Linked DNA regions of Homo sapiens: region 1 is linked to region 2. The links come from fine-mapping of genetic effects on gene expression. A gene starts in region 2. The other region holds a variant in brackets. All regions are shown on one strand. Distances are between the middles of the regions.

Region 1 (8,342 bases), 260 kb after region 2:
TTCCTAAAAGATTCATGTACATGTTAGAGTTTGCAGAGTCTTACCCTAGACAATGTTAGATTGTGGTTATGCTGTGAAAAAGATGCTTGGGTTAGGAAGGATGGATCTACGTTTAATAGGCTTGTCCGGGAAAGCCTCTTAGAGGAGGCTGCCCTCGAGGGAGACTGAAACGTAGAGCCTTATTCATCTAGACCCAGCCCTTTAGTCCCTTCAACCCCCACCCCCAGAATGGGGACAGCGCCTGCTTATGTGCTATACCTTGTGAGCAGACAATGAGCGTTTGGGGCTGAAGGCCAGGAACATAAGCCAAATAAAAGCTATCTCCCTTTTTTTTATTAAAAAAGAACAACATCAAAATATAAGTGATTTTAGTCTTTAACTAAAATACCCCTGGCCTATGAAAGGGGAAATAAAATATAATGTACTATTCCAGAAGATTCTGACTTCTGTCTTTGCCAAGAGTGTTTTTTGTCTTCAAAAAATAAACTGTTCCTGGAAAATTCTATTAGCTTTTGTAAATGTAGATGCAGAAGAATGATCAGAGGGTTTTAAATTTAAAAAATGCTGGGTAGATATTCCTTCTTGTTCTCCTATAATAGGCTCTAAACTTTAATGGTGCAAGTTTCTCACTTTTCCCTCAGTTGATCAATGTAAATGAGATTTTTCCTATTTATTGGAGTTGTCATGTTGTGGTCATATAATTATGCTGAGATATTAAATATGTCTTAGACACAAAAATTGTAAGTAAATACAATACAGAGGAACTTTGAGCTTATTTCCATATCATTAAACCACGTTTTACCCATAAGCAAAGTGCATTTCTCATAACTTGTAAGAAATATCTTGCCTCACCGTAGCACACATACTTAACATTCTTTTAAAAGCTACTCAATTTGACATCAGTATTTGAATTCTTCTATCACCAGGAAATTAGGGGACAACAGAGTTGCAAATATCAATTTATAAATGTGCAGTTAGTAAGATTATAATTCTATTCTAAATGGCCATTCTGCCAATTAACATTTTTTTCAGGAGGCTGGGCATCATATTGAAAAAATTTACCTAAGTTAAGATTGCCTGGGGGCATTGGTTAAGAAAAGGATAGAAAGCATAAATTTGTGTCCAAAGGTAAGTACTTACATAGCAGCTGTTTCTATCAGTTACTTTGTTGCAATTAAGGTTTTGTAATAAATAATGCTGCTATTTTTTATTCCTGTGGCATTAAAATGTGTGAGGCTTATCAGTCTGGTAATTATGTAAATCCTAAAATAATTTATCCTTTTTAGTGTCTGGCAGTCTGACCCTGTTGGAGGTTATTGAACCACTGCTTGATGAGTATGTCAGTCAGTGTACCTTCTCATCCAGCAATCCCTGTATAACTAAGTGCAAGTCAACTCTTTTACAATACAGAAATTTATTGTTTAAGTGGTTCTGTTAGTATATAGACTTAGGCCACAGTCGTACTTTGTTGTTGTTAAAAACATGTCACTGTCAGCCAGGCACAGTGGCTCATGCCTATAATCCCAGCACTTTGGGAGGCTGAGGCGGGTGGATCACCTGAAGTCAGGAGTTTGAGACCAGCCTGGGCAACATGGTAAAACCCTGTCTCTACTAAAAGTACAAAAATTAGCCAAGTGTGGTGTCAGGTGCCTGTAATCCCAGCTATTCCAGAGGCTGAGGCAGGAGAATCACTTGAACCTGGGAGGTGGAGGTTGCAGTGAGCCAAGATCGTGCCACTGCACTCCAGCCTGGACGACAGAGTGAGACTCTGTCTCAGGACAAAAAAAAAAAAAAAAAAAAGCCACTGTCATTACCATAATTAAGAAAAAAGATAGTGAAATGACAAAATGAATATTACTTCTAATTTTAAAAAATTCCCCTGGCAGATTAAAATCTCTACTAACGACTCCAAACAATACTCTCAATTAGCTGACTCATATTTTCTTTTTCTTTTCTTTTTGTTTTTACCACATAAAGACCGAAAATATATTTAAGAAGGGCATGTCCACAGAGCAGCATACAATTGCTTTAGTCTGTTCCATATTCCATAACCACAAAACTTCACAATTATAATTGAGGGGAAAATTTATTCTCTTGAAATCCTTTCAAGATTTTATTGAGAATCAGGTATTTAACAGGGACAGAAAAGCAGGCAAAGGCATTCTAGAACAGTTTTCAACAAGAATTAAAACTAAAAAAAAAAAAGTACGAGGATACCAAATTAAATTTTTAAAAACACTGTTTTCTGAGAATATTTGGACATTTTACCAAAATTGTGTTATCCTGATTGTTGGCATGAATATTCAGAGTTAACTGCAAACTTAATTGAATTCTTATTCTGAGACAGCCTTCCAATATATAATGGCAGGGACCACACCAGAGTCATTATAATCAACATATGTATTCATTACTCTCCTGTGGTTAAACCCCTTGTACACAATTTTAAAAGCTTACAATGGCCTAGAAATGGTTCCACAGGCTTTGCTGGGTCTTTAAGGTCAACATCTCCTCAGTGTCTCACCCATCCACCACCTTCCTCAGTTAGATTGCATGGGAGAGATGCCACTTAATGGTTAAGTGGGAAAAGTTGTCTTCATCTAAAACTGAATGTAGGGAAAGCTCTTCTTTTCTGATACAAGTTTCTGATACCAGCTCTCATAAACCCATCAAGCATCCATTTAGTCTTTCACTGTTAAAGTGAAAGGAAACTGTATTTTTTAAGCGAACGATGTCTACTCAGTGTTTATGCCTCACAATGAATTTGTTCCAAGTTCCTTTTCCCTTTCAATTTTGTCTCAGAGAGTTATTAAGCTTTCACATAATTAAGCCATGATCCCCGTCTGGGCCCACAGTAAGACTTGTGCACTCTCCACCTTCTCTTACAGAGTGTTTTGCTTTCATTCTTCCCTTCTAGAAAACATGCTTTACTAACAAGTGAAAGGCACTGATTGACAAGTGAAACAATATAAAGAAAGGTTTTGATGGAAATGTTTGTCAGTCACTCTGTGAAAGCATAATTTATGTGGCAACATTTTTAGCTAATGAAATGAACGTTGTAAAGCTCTAGATAAAAATGGCTACTGTTGCTGTACCCATAAATGTTTTTTAGGACCCAATGAAAAAACCCAAGTTATTTTTGAAACGTTAGGCCCATATTTGGGGACTGGTGAAATGGTCTCTCTGCTAATATAGTATCAAATGGTAGTGTATTTTTTATTTTTGTTTTTTGATTTCTTTCAGTTAAAACAACTTTATACCTCAGAATATATTCTGACATATAGTCTTGAAACTACAGACTAAGTCTAGTCATCCTAAGACTTACAGGACAATACACTTAAGAATCACATTGCTAATTCCCAAACAGAAATCAAACTGTCAGATAGCTTTTAGCCACATTTTTTAAAGTATAATTTGATTGTATGTTGAATTTTTGAGGTTTTAAACTCATCCTTATCATTGGATGAAAGGCCACATGATTGTTTTATTTTTGTTCAATTTTCTTTCACACTATCTTAGACATATCATTACTTTTATGAAAATATAGCAGATGTACTGACTGTCAAACAATTAGATGGTGTGTCTGCTGTCAATTATATTGCCTCCGGAGTTAAATTCTACTCATGTACCTTCTGATGTTAAAAAAAAAATTCTTAATTCTAAGTGATGCTCACTGCAATTTTAATGCAATGCAGACAGACTCCTTGTTGCAGCATTATTCTCTGCAATTCTATAGCAGTGCAATTTTGGTTATAGCAATTAATCCCCTTTGACTTGTATTATAGTATGTCTTCCAGGCTGTGAGTTATTTGAGTACAGGGATAGTCTCATCTGTCTTTGTTTCCCCTAGGACCTCTCACAGTGCGAGGCACAGAGT[A/TTA]AGTGTTCAGTTAAAAAAAAAATTAATTGAATTTCCTGCAAAAGAAATTAGTGCATTAAATTCAGTCATTCTAGGTTCTAGCTGCATCCTCCCCTATAAGTCCTTCCAACTATCTTTTGTTTAAAGAACAGCTAAAAACATCATCAGATCATACACTGAGTCAATAGTACAGTTCCATGGTTATGATATAGGCTTTGAGATCAGGCGCCCTGTGACAAATTGCAGCTGACCCACTTACTGAATAACTGGAGAATGCCCTCTCTGTTCCTTTGGGTCCCTCGTGAGTACCATGGCAGTGGCGACTGTAACAGTTTCACCTGGTTGCTGTGAGTCCTAAATAGGGTAATTCATGGAAACTTCTTAGTACCGTGCTTAGTATATTAGGTGGGACCTGTCAGTATTAGATATTTTTAATAAGAGAACTTAAAATCACAATTACCAAAGGCTAAGAATGGGCATTTGAGGAAACTGATATGAGGACAGTTACCTGCTTGTGAGAGAGAGACCAGTTCAAATCAGTTGTGCTGAGTATAGTCACTTGGAGAAATAGAGATTGAAAATGTGAAAGATATATTTCCTATTTTTCAATAATACCTAAATTTATTTATGCCACTTGTCACACAGGGCTATAATCATGCAGGATTATGATTTTTTTTAACACTTTAGACCATAATGACATAATTTCAATGTATATTTGGTAGGTGTTAAACCAGTAAATGATAGATAATTCAAATTATTAACATTAGTGCTTTAAAGTCAGTCACTATTAAAACCTTATTATTAGTTGAGAGGGTCTATGTTAGTGGACATGGAACTATCCCCCCAAAATGGAAGATATTTGTTCAAATTAAAATTAGAACATGTAGTTCATATATTCTAAATGAACATGTGTGCCTCTGTAATAATAACTTTATTATCACCAAGTTACAGGATAGAGTTTTAATTATGATCTTTATATCAGTAGAAGCCATGTATTTAGGATTAAAGACCTACTGCTTTAGCTAGTCTAGTTAAAGACTATGGCTTGATACATTCTGGGCTCCAACTTTTATAAAAACCAGAGAATACTTCTAATAACACTTTTCTAATTTCATGGTTCGGTGCACAGTCAGTAAAGATTTAAATAATTCAGAAAGAAAGCCTATTCTCTTTCTTTATTAGAAGTTTGAGTCAGGCAAATTCTTTGACATTTAATAGGTTTTTAACCCTTTTAATAACTTTTTATAATGAAATTTATTGGCTGTTGTTTTAAAGAAAGGATCATTATATTAGCATGAATAGCAGTCACTAGTTTTTATGATTAGTTTTGAGACCTTGACCTTATGTGACTCAAAGTTTATAAAACCATAAATGAGTGAGTGATGTTAATATTAACTAAATTAGGTATACCTAGAAATATTGAGACTATATATAATTACATCTATCCCATTATCTAACATGCTATAAAATTTTGGCAGACAAATATTTGAATCTTGTAATTGTTTTAAAGGAGCTTAAGGTCACTTACAGAGTCAGACACTTTAAAATAGCTGAAAGACATTGTAATTTTCCTAGAATGATTGTTCCAAGTTATTAATACCATGCTCAAAAGGAGAGGATTTCCAGCCTTTTCCTGTCTTCGTTTCATGCTATTTTAATGTTTTATAATGTATTATTTGAAAGGATTATTGGATGATTTCCATAATAAAATACTAATGTAAAAATTGTACTTTTCTTCAAGTCTCCAATAAGTTGGGGCATACAAGTATTCTGCACAGGGAAGCTGTCTGGCTCAAGCAGAATATAAGGTTTTAATTTTGCTTCTTAAGATGTATTTTTAAGCTGAATGTCACGTGTATCTAATGATTTAAGTGCCTCTAAATGAACTCAAATATCAATGTTCTGAACTGATGTTAGGAAGTCAATATCCCACTTGACATCTCTATTTTTGCAAGCATCCCATTAACATTCCGTGGAAAAATATGAGAAAGCAACTTAAATTCCCAAGTTTAAATATGGTGTGAAGAAGCATTCTTGCTAGCTCATGCTGCTATGAATACACAGAGGTAGTTCTAGTAAGTGATCCGCTACTCCCAGACGGCATGTCTCCCAGTACGTCCCAATTTTCTTATTACTTAACCTACACTTCCAATCCATTCTTTTTATTTCAATGCACACAATCCTTTGAAAGTATTCTAGAAATAAAGCACATTATTCAGTCCCTTCTCTGGGCACATCAAAACAAAGGAGATATGAGCAAACAGTAGCATGTTTGATACACTTTTAATATAAAATCATAGCCCCTTGTGAACAAAACACTGCCTACACTTTGTAGCACAGATGCAAAAGTCATGATCTATACAAATACAAATAAAAGGCTTCGTTGATTCTAATCATAGGTAGACCCAGAGCACATTCATAAACTCCCCTTACCAGAGATGTAATTTGTAGGAACTGCTAATTCAGATGTTTTGGGAATCAGAGGGTGGACCACATGATCCCCAGAGCTCTTTTAGACAGGACAGACCCTTTAGTCCGTGAGCCTCTCATGTCCTGCCATTATCTGCAGTTATGAGAGATGCACCTTGTCAAGTAAAAGTAAACTTTGCCTGTTGCCCATTTGCACATTTCCTTTATTTTCGCTGGGCAGGAAAGCCCTTTCAAGGGCTCACTGAAGCACGGTGTGTCAAACTTGGTAATATTGACGTTGATAGTTTAAGATTCACAGCAGGAAACAAATGGCATTGGCATGAAGCAATCAGAAACGAGGTGGCTCAATCTGAGTAAAAAACATCTTTCCAACTGTGCAGTTAAAGGGCAACGCTATACGCCATAACCTCCTGGCCGAAGTTGTGATCCAAAAGAGAGATTATATGTACATAGTTGATGGAAAAGAATGCTGTCCTATGAACTGGAATACCTTTTTATACGTTAAAATGTTTTTGAACTTTGTATCTACCAGTTAGCCTATTAGCCTTGATCAGGGAGCTATTAAAACCCAGGTTATAAGTTCAACCTTTATCTGTGCTGTTGACTTTCTCTCAGTGAAACCCTGTGCTCTGTGACTGTAAGCTGCCCTGCTTATCCCAGGGAAGGTCCCCATAGATACAAGCTTTTGGCTGCCAGAATGTTTGGTCATAATTGTGTCAGTGGCTCACCAGGGACCAGAACTGGTCAGGGAAAGCAACTCAAGGATAATAACCGAAGAGAACCATCAGCGTGAGCAGCAACCACAAAAATGAATTCATTTGTGACAAAATGCATTCGTAGTCCTTATCTTAGTTAATCCTCACAGTCATGTTTTAAGGAAGCATTTAAGGTCAGTACACTCCTCTCCTATTTGTCTCCTTACAACATCTCACTGTCCTAAAATATTTATTGTCTTGTCTGTCTCTTCCACTAGGAAGTGAGCTGCATCAGGGCACGAATTCCAACTACATGGTCACCACTGTGGACCAGGTACCTAAGACAGTGCCTGGCACATAGCAGGCACTCAATAAATATTTGTTGGTGAAAAATTATCCTCTTTTTATGAGTTGAAAAATGAGGGTTAAAGAAGTTGAAAGTAAGACAACTCATTAGAAACAGTGGCAGCTAGGTGTCATGAACAGGGTTGCCTCCACAATAGCACACGGCCCCCCTCTCCTTTAGAGAAAGGAAAAAAATCGAATAAAATGGCGTAAAATTGCTTTTTCAGTTGTTTATAGATATAAATCCAGATGCATACACTAGAGCAACTAAGACACTTCTTTCTGGATCTGCTGGATGTGGCAGCAATTGCAGTGGAGTTCTGCAGAGGAGGCCAGGCAAGGGCACTAAGGGCGTTAACAGGTTCAGGGTCCCCCTTCTCTCTGTTGCTTGCTGCTCTTCAATATCTGATCTTTGGTTCATCCCTGGGAGACGATGTACAAACAAACAAACACCAAAACTGGTGACATGGTTTTTAGCCAGTGTGATTTTTAGCCATCACTTTTAAGACTCTTCAGTGATGTTTTGCTCTGAACACACCAAATTCCTTGAGTAATAAGGGGCCCATTCGTGGAAGAAGCCACAATGGAGAGACCACAGTGTAAAGGAGTGAGATGGTCAGGTAATGTAGAAGTCAGGCAGTGTGAGCACTGGTTTCTGAGGCAGTTTTAATCTTCTCTGAAGATGGTGGTTCTAGAGAGTACTATGGCTGTTCATTTGGCAAATATCTAATAAATTGTGCTCCAGGGTTCTTACTTTCTTGTGATAAATTGTTTTATAATGACTAATTACCCTAACTAAACTACAGGTATTCTATTGTAGCGTACTGTAAAGAAAGCTGAACCCTACTTGTTGCTATTGTCTTTTGAAAGAAAAGCGAAGATTCCAAATATTAAATACAAAAACAATTTTGTTTTTGGAAATGCAGAGTTGAAATCAAGTTATTCTAAATTAAAATACTGAGGATAAAAATACATTTTTATAAAAATGTCCAACCTTTCTTTTGAACCTCACTTGTCTC
Region 2 (8,342 bases):
AAGGCCAGTGAAGGGCTAAATATTAATTTAGTTATACAATACGGCAGGCTTTGATTTTAGTTTTAATATCTGGCATTTCAAAATCAACCCCTCTATATGACATTTCATTCTCATGTGCATCTATAGAGGGCTTCAACCCTTGAAGAAAAACTAACTCCAAAATCTAGCAAAGAATGCCTGCCAGGAAGTACCATGGTTTGTTGAATAATTTTTATAAGACTCTTGTAAATCACAGATAGGATTAACTGTCTAAAAGCTATTTTCCCCAAAGTAACACATTCTGTATGTGATTTGGAGACATTACTACAAGATTTAGGACTTAACCTACATAATACAAAGAATCAGTAGACATAAAATGTGGTCACTGAAAACAAGTATAAATTTGAAAACGTAACAATTTGTGAAACTATAATTAAAGTGAAGATGGGCAATGTTGAGGGAACAAAATCAAATGCTCCGTGTGGTTTGTAATTACTGATGAGGCTTTCCAAAGTAATCTGGAAAATTAAATAAGACTGCGAAATTCAATGTAAAGAAATTAGGACCAGGTCCACGATATAGTAGGCATTTCACAAGTAGGTACTGATAGCATTACATCAGCACTGGTAAAGACACGTTTTGTTTACAGGCACTCATTTTCTGGTAACTAGAGTACATAAAGTTCCTAGGTCAGGTGAATAAACTGTAACCTGGACCTTTACAAGTCATGCAAGTTTACTGACAGTAAATGGGCAAATTGCCAACTCCATCTCTAAAAGGCAGCGTAGGTGATGAGGTTTTGGGAGTGGTGATCCTCAATGTCCTCTTATGGGGATCAACACAAAATGACAATCCAGCCTATCTACTAAAATTTCATACTTTTAACATTTCCTTTGTTAAGGACTCTTTCCTTCTAGACTACCTTATCTTTCCTTTTAGGCCAGTGGTTCTCAATCTTTTCTGAAAATTAAAGCCACTGGAGAGCTTTTAAAAATTCCTGTGCTCAGGCCCTACCTGAAAAGAACTGAATCAGAATCTGTGCGTGTGGGGCTCTGGCATGAGTATTTTTCTAAACTGCTAAGATGACTTCACTGACCAGACTAGTTTGGAAAATACTACTCTGAAAGACTACATCTAGAGCAGGAACCATTTTAAGTAATTTGTTTTGTATTTTAAACCTATAAATAATACAAAGCATTAGTGTTTTTCACCACTCTCTCTGTTGATTAATGTACAAATGAATGAGTGAATGGACAAATAACTATTTTATTTATCCATGATGTGGAGTTGAATGTCCAGGAAACTGAAAAGTATTACAATGATGCTCTATTTTATTTTCTAAATTAAGAAAGATTTGCTCAGAGGTTTAGATATTCAACTTTCCCCAACTTTTAGTACAAATACATCCATTTAGTTTTTGATGGGCCTTGGATACAGCATTATAAAGTGAGCATTTTTTCAGATTACACTGAGATGGCCTCTCTTTGTATAAGTGGCTAGAAGTAAGAACTTTTTCCCCCAGTAGCTCATATTCCCACCTATCACACCATGCCATGTACAGTATACCACTTTAACTCCATACACTCCGATGGAAGAAACCAGACTCTTGATTATGTAGAAGAATGCACAGGTCTCATGCATTTGGATTTTCCCTTAAAGCAGAGAAAACTGGTAGGTCTGTAGAGGAAAGCAGGAGATATCATTATCTCCCAGGAGTCAAGATGCAGATAATGGTATTGTTCCAGTCTTGAACCATTTCATTTCATCTTCCTGATGTTCACGAGGCCATCAAACAGACATCAATGATGAATTCCAAGAAAGTTTTATTTTTAAAAATCAAGTTTTGATATAATAAATGTTGGATTGAGGATAGAAATTTAAGCTGAGAAATGTTTAATTTGGACCTAAAAAAGTTTATTATTACTATTATTATTGTGGAAGGAAATACATACAGGCACATTTTAGTATCTACAACAGTATTTGGGAAGCTGTTATGAAACACAAAACTTCATTTAAATTTTATTATAAAGACCTTTATTAGGAGAAAGGACATATTTTCTATTTCTTACTTTTATTTTGTGCCTTGAAGGACTTGTGAATGTATAGAATAATTATTTTTTCTTACTGCTTCCTCTTTGCAACCCAACCTCCACCAAGTCAATCGTGAAGGTAGGAAGAAAGCTGTATTTCTGTTACTTTTAAAAATGATAACGAGAAGAAATTAAAACAATGGCTTAAGAGAAAGAGGATGTAAGGAGTACAAAGCAAAACTTAACAAAGAGTTAGTAAAGGAACTTGCATTGACAATTCACTCAGCCATGTTAATTTTATCATTAATACTGTCTTCATCATTTTTTTTTCCAGGTCTCTCTGCTCGTATTTGCTTGGTGCTCCGAAATGCACGGGAACAGACAGCTATGGGAAAGCTGCACAGAGCAGTTGGCAATCAACATGTCCTAGAAGGGTGTGTGGAGTAGCAAAACAAGTGGAACGGATGAAGAACTTCCAAGCTCCTTCGCAGAGTTTTGGGCCCTAGTGTGCAGGGCTGCTCCCTCATGAGATGGAGGACAATGTCGCCCACACCTACTTGGACCTCTCACCAAGGACACTGCCCTCAGAGATAAATCTGTTGGACGGCAGCCAAGAGACCCCAAATTGTCTCAACCTCCAGGACACGGCAAGTTGCAAGTTTCCGAGTTGGGGAGGCAAAGCGGGAAAACATGTTTGGCGATTTCCTCCTGCCACTCACCGACCGGAGAAATGGGGAGGCGGACTCCAGGTCTTTCGTGGACTGCCAAGAGCCCTATAGGGCGTCCAGCTATAAAAAGAGAAGAATCCCATGAAGGACAACAAGCAAACTCATATGTTATCCCTTTAGCCGGATTGTGTGCTGATGATTGTTTCCCTATTTACACTTCGAATCACCCCTGTGGTCTTTTGTGAGTCCCCAAGGCAGCCTCAGCCTTCGCAAACCGTCCAGTGGGGCACGAATCTCGGAGGGGTGCGGGCTGCAGGCGGCAGAGGGAAGCCAAAGAGGGGCGGCTTTTCCAGGCCGTCCACCCCCAGGCGAGCTGGTCCTCACCCTTCGATCGGCTCGAGTCCCTCGGACAGTTGCCCACTCACAGCGTGCAAAGGGGTCGCACTCCCTGTGGGTTCTCCGCCCTCAGAAGCGGCGCTGCGCAGGAAAGTCACCTCCACTACGGGCCGGGAGTAGGGAGGGGAGCACAGTGACAGGGTTGGGGAACAGCCGAGGAGGAGTGGGGGTCGCGGAGATAGGGGTGGGGACGGCCGCGGAGAGGGCGGTGGGAGTGGGGTGGGGCCGGGGAGGGCCGGGGGCGGGGCTGCGGGGCGGGGTGCGCCACAGCGCCCCCTAGCTGCGCGCTCCCCACGGTGCCCTGAGGCCGCTGGTGGCTCTGGCTCGGCAGCCCCTTTGTGTGCGACGCGCTGGTCCCGAGGAGCGCGGCACGGGCACAGCGGAGGCCTCCCAGGGTCCCACCGCTTCTGTCCCAGCCAGGCCGTGCTCTCCTCCTTCTCCTTCTCCGCTCCTCCTTTCTCCGGTCCCCGGCCTCTGGTTCCGAACAGCAGCCATTGGGCCTTGACGAGCCCGCGTCCGGCCGCGCTCCCTACCCCGCCCGGCCCGGGACGCTCGCCCCCCTCCCGCCCTGTCCCTTCTGGATCCCCGCCCCACCCCCCCACCCCCCACATCCCGGGCCTCCAAGGTGGAGAAAATAAACTACAAGCAGAACAACTCAGAATCTCCAATAAAACGCCCAGTACCTAGAGCCCGAGCGCGTGTGCCGGGCTGCGAGGGGCGCGGGAGGCGGGGATGGGGGGGCGGGCGGGGGGGACAATGAGCGCATGAAGTTACCTGCCCGGCGGCGGCGGCAGCGGCGGCGGCGGGACCAAGAGGCGGCGGTGGAGCAGGCTGCGCGCTCGGCGCCGACGGGTGCGCGCCGCGGCTTGGGGGAGAGTTGAGCGCTTTTCCCCCCTCTTTTTTTTTTTTTTCCTCTTCTTCTTAAACAAACCACAAACGGATGTGAGGGAAGGAAGGTGTTTCTTTTACTCCTGAGCCCAGACACCTCACTCTGTTCCGTCTAAGCTTGTTTTGCTGAACACTTTTTTTTAAAAAAGGAAAAAGAAAAGGAGTTGCTTGATGTGAGAGTGAAATGGACGTAAGATTTTATCCACCTCCAGCCCAGCCCGCCGCTGCGCCCGACGCTCCCTGTCTGGGACCTTCTCCCTGCCTGGACCCCTACTATTGCAACAAGGTGAACGCTCTGCTTTTGTTTCCACCGTGTTCTTGCTGCTTGATCCTGGGAGGGGAGCGGCGGTGGCCGGGCCGCGGCGGGGCCGGCTTGGCGGAGGCCGGTCCCGGGCGCGCTCGGCTCGCAGCCCGCTGCAGCCTGCGTGCGCTTGGGTAGTAAATATTGTGGAGTAGCTCCGGGGGCTTGCCAAACACCGCGATTGTGCGGAAAGTGACACGATTTGCTCGGATTCTTTCCTTCCTGCTGTTCGCGGCTAAGGATCCCTGCCTAGGTTTGCCGGGGGGCGTTTAAAAAAATAATAAGAGAAAACCGTGGAATACTTTGGGGGTGTGTCTGGGGTCCAGGAACGGAGGCAGAGTAAGAGAATTCAGTTTATTTCCCAGTTCCCCCTTCTCTCTCCCTCCCTCCCCGGGCAGTGGGGGCTCGTGGCACCACTTCCCTTCTCCGGATTAGTTGCCAGGGGAGCAGCCGGGAGTCGGGGTGCAGGGACCTGGGAGGCGCCCCTGCCCCCCACAGGGAAAACTGCCCCACAACTCTTTTGTTTTCTCAAACCGGTTCCGGCAGCCGAGCCCGGGTTCGGACACAGGTCCGCGGGCCAGAGCACAGCGGGGTAGCTGGGTCAAGGTTTGGGGAACAGTTCCTGTTTAAGGGGTGCGCGCGGAAATTGCAAGTTTGTTGGGAGCCGGGCGAGCACGTCGCGTTCAAGTCCAAAGCTCCCGCACTCGCGGAGCAGGGTCCGCGGCTGAGCTGTACCCACGGCCCGCTGACCTCGGGTGCCAGGGCCGCGGGGGCCCGGGGAGAGGCGGATCATGCCGGTGACCCGGAGGTGGGGCGCTGGCCTGGGCTGCTGCGGAGTTCGGCTGGGTCCACCTATAGGACAGTCAGGGGGTACGAGGGAGGGGGTTACTCTCCCGGCTTCTCGAACTCTCTCATCCCAGAGAGGGAGGACACGCAGGGACCGGTCCCCCAGAGTGGTCGCAGGGGCACGACTGCCCACGCCTAGGGCTAGTTGGACGTGTCTAAGCAGTCCCGTTGGATGAACGTTGGCAGAGAGAATTGAGTTCTCTAAAACGCTGGGCGGGCCTTTTAGACGCCCAACTCTCGCTTGGTGATAAATCTGCCTGATACTCACAGCCCCTGCAGGCACATCCATGGCGACCCTCGGTGCATTCCACGGGAAAAATCGTTGGGACTCCCAACATTTGCCTGGTGGCGAGTCATCACCAAACGGCTTTTTTACCTGATACAGAGATATTTAGTGCGCTGCCTTCTCAGCCCTGGACTCCGCACCACGCGACCGAGTCGCAGCTCCGAGTCTTGGACAGTGTTGACACACAGGCAGGCTCTCACACACACACTTCCCCGTGGAGAAGCTCCTCGATGCTGTGTCCAGTGTGAGACCCACTCAAAGGACTGTGCTGTGTGCCGATGGTGTTTAGGCAAGTTAGAAAAGAGGGACATCCAGTCTTGAGCAAGGCAGAAGGGCTTCCATTGTACAGGGAGCCCTTCAGCTACGGGCAAGTTGAAAGGTACGGGGAACTTTGGCAAGCGCATAGGAGTTTGTGTGATGAAGTTTCATTATTTGCTGGTGACATAGTTCTTTTAGTCTAAAATCTGTTTTGTCTGTACACTCAAGTATTGTGTTACGTTTTATTTTGCTTATGACACCAATACTATTGCTAATAAAAAATAATAAAGTTGCAGCCCTATCTTGGAGAGTAAAGACTTATTCCACTGTAGTTACCGGAACCAAAAGCTCAGAACTATTTTGGCAATGAGACTGGACAAATCTTATTAAGTTTATCAGTGATTTTAGGCCCCAAAAAGAAGTTAATGACTTGGATACACATTTCACTCCTCGTTCTTGTGATAAGTAGGGTCAGATTTAATTTAAAAGTTAAATGCTTTGGAAAATCAGGAATTACTTCAATATATTAAATCATTTTCCAATTAAGTGCTTTAAATAATTTTAGTGGGTTGTGCTGTGAATTGAATAAATTAATTTAGAAAGTATTCAGAATTTCTTTACTAGCTCATTGAAGTTCCTTTTAAGTCACCCCGTGTATAAGAAGCAAACTGTTCTTTTTAAATGCAAATTAGGCACCCTTTCTGTAGACTAGTTGCGAGTCTTCTATTTAACTTATCCAGAGAATAATAGATTTTTTAAAATCCAAAGTCATAAGACATGTTTCTAATAGTGGAAGAAGACTTCATGGAAATGTTTCTCCAGGGACATCTCTGGCCCATCTCTGTGTAGCAGTCCATCAGATATATTTGTCACTGGTCCCGATTATATTAAATGTACTGGATAGTTTTCTAGGCCCCACAAATCCCAGGCACTTGAGTTTTTTCACTCCACCATGATTAGCATTGGTACAAAATTTCTGTCCAGCTCCACAATTGTAGTTGTGCATAATGCAGTCAACTAGCATTTGTTTTTGCAATGACATGAGTGGATTTGCAGGGAAATGGAAGAAGGACAGAAGTTTGGAAAAGGTGAAGTAAGAAATCTGTGCCTACATTTATTAAAACAAGTTGGATCAGACATCCCCAAAAGAACAATACTGCAAAGTAAATCTTGCTTCCTTCGGAGGCGTAATGAATATGTAGCTTACTACAAATAGCAGTCAGTTTGTCAGGTGATTTGTTTTTAATAGGGTGATAAGATCATAAATTACTAATTATCTTTATTTTAAACCTGTCAACACTTTGCTTATTTAAAGTTGGTGTGCTAAATCCCAGCGGAACCAGTATCTATCTGTGCTTTAGAATCCTACAACTGTAGCTACAGTTTCCCGGTGACATTTTTTTCAATGTCAGAAGAGACTCTAATGGAGAAAATGAATATTCTCTTCCTGAAGCTTTCTAAACTAAAATGTGATTGTTTTACTCTGCTGACACTTTCCGGCACTGCTGCTCTATAGATTGCCAAAATGCTACTTACATTTTTCAGTTAATAAACTCTGGAGGAGGCATTTTTGGAAACGGTTTAATCTAGTATTGCTCTACTGTAAGACTAATACACGTTATGAACATATCACTATGCAAAGTAGCCTCCATTTTCACATAGCCCATTGTGGGAACAATGCGAATGATGTTGGTTAAGGCAAGTGTGTGAGGCATCTCTTACACAAACAGCCAGAACGGATGGCATGTTGCTGTATATAGGTCAGTGTTGGAAATAGCAGTGTAGCTCATAGACTGGACAGACACATGGAGGCTGGAGTTAACAGTATTCACCTCTTGCAGCCTAATGCATGGTTATATTTCAGACATTGAAAGATGAGTACCATAGTGGAGTTTCATCTAATTAGACTATTTTAAGTAACATTGTATCCCTTAATTGAGCTGAATGCTACCAAAATAAATTGGATTAAATGAGCTTACAATTGGAGTTCTGTAGTGATATAGTCTTGTTTTCTATTCTAGTTAAAGATGTCAGATCATCAGTTTAAATATATACCTACAGAGTAATAACAGTTCTTTTCAGTTTCTTAGTGCAGCGTCATTTCCAAAGATTGTTTTCACTGGTTTTATGCTAAGATAGGACAAAGAAGTGGTACTTTTTCATTTTTACAACGATGTGATGTGTTCAGTTATTGCTCAGTATCTGCCCACATAAGGAGTAGTAATACAATTATGTTATGACATGGCTAATGACAGGGATGGTGACCTCGGCCTGCAGTGGGAGGAGAAATAATGGGCTTCACTGTTCTCAGTGGTTGCCTTTATGGAATCATGTCCTGAATCTTTCTTTGGTTGATTTAGAAACAGGGAAGTCCAAAACACAAACCCATGCTTCATGCTGGTGATATACAGAGTGAAGAATAGTGGGCATTTGGAATATTCAGCTTTTATCATTGAAATGAGGAAGGACAGTGTATATGTTCTTTTTCGTAAAAACGCACAAGGAAGGACCCATTTGTGATGAACTCTGCTTGAAAATGTCAGGACAAACATTAGACATTTGATAACTTTTAAGAATAACGAGATTCATTACAGTCTCTGCAAAATCTCCTTTGAGCTTATTTTCTATTTAAAATGTATTATGTATTATACTTTAATGTGGCAATACTCATCAAAAATACAGGATTTGTA

Alleles and levels. Alleles are on the strand shown, and positions count from the first base shown. SD is a standard deviation of normalised expression in the study named.
With allele TTA in place of A in region 1, the expression in fibroblasts of the gene that starts at base 3,923 in region 2 is lower (small effect, 0.22 SD a copy in GTEx).

Evidence for each region. PIP is the estimated chance that this variant, and not a neighbour inherited with it, causes the effect. A credible set is the group of variants that fine-mapping cannot tell apart.
Region 1: its variant is the best candidate, but not a certain one, in a credible set for the expression of TOX-DT in fibroblasts (GTEx, PIP 0.64).

What each region holds. Positions count from the first base shown.
Region 1 is chr8:58,859,286-58,867,627 of GRCh38, reverse strand. The region is part of intron 3 of TOX (thymocyte selection associated high mobility group box); the gene reads left to right. Among named protein-coding and RNA genes, the nearest start is that of NSMAF, 200 kb to the right of the region's middle. The variant A/TTA (reference allele first, on the strand shown) is at 3,875.
Region 2 is chr8:59,114,791-59,123,132 of GRCh38, reverse strand. TOX-DT (TOX divergent transcript) reads right to left here and starts at 3,923. Exons shown (of 3, transcript NR_149031.1): 1 at 3,848-3,923; 2 at 3,062-3,176; 3 at 1-2,797. It overlaps TOX (thymocyte selection associated high mobility group box), which reads left to right and starts at 3,986. Exons shown (of 9, transcript NM_014729.3): 1 at 3,986-4,247. The coding sequence starts at 4,146. RefSeq lists silencers at 3,242-3,461, 7,300-7,349.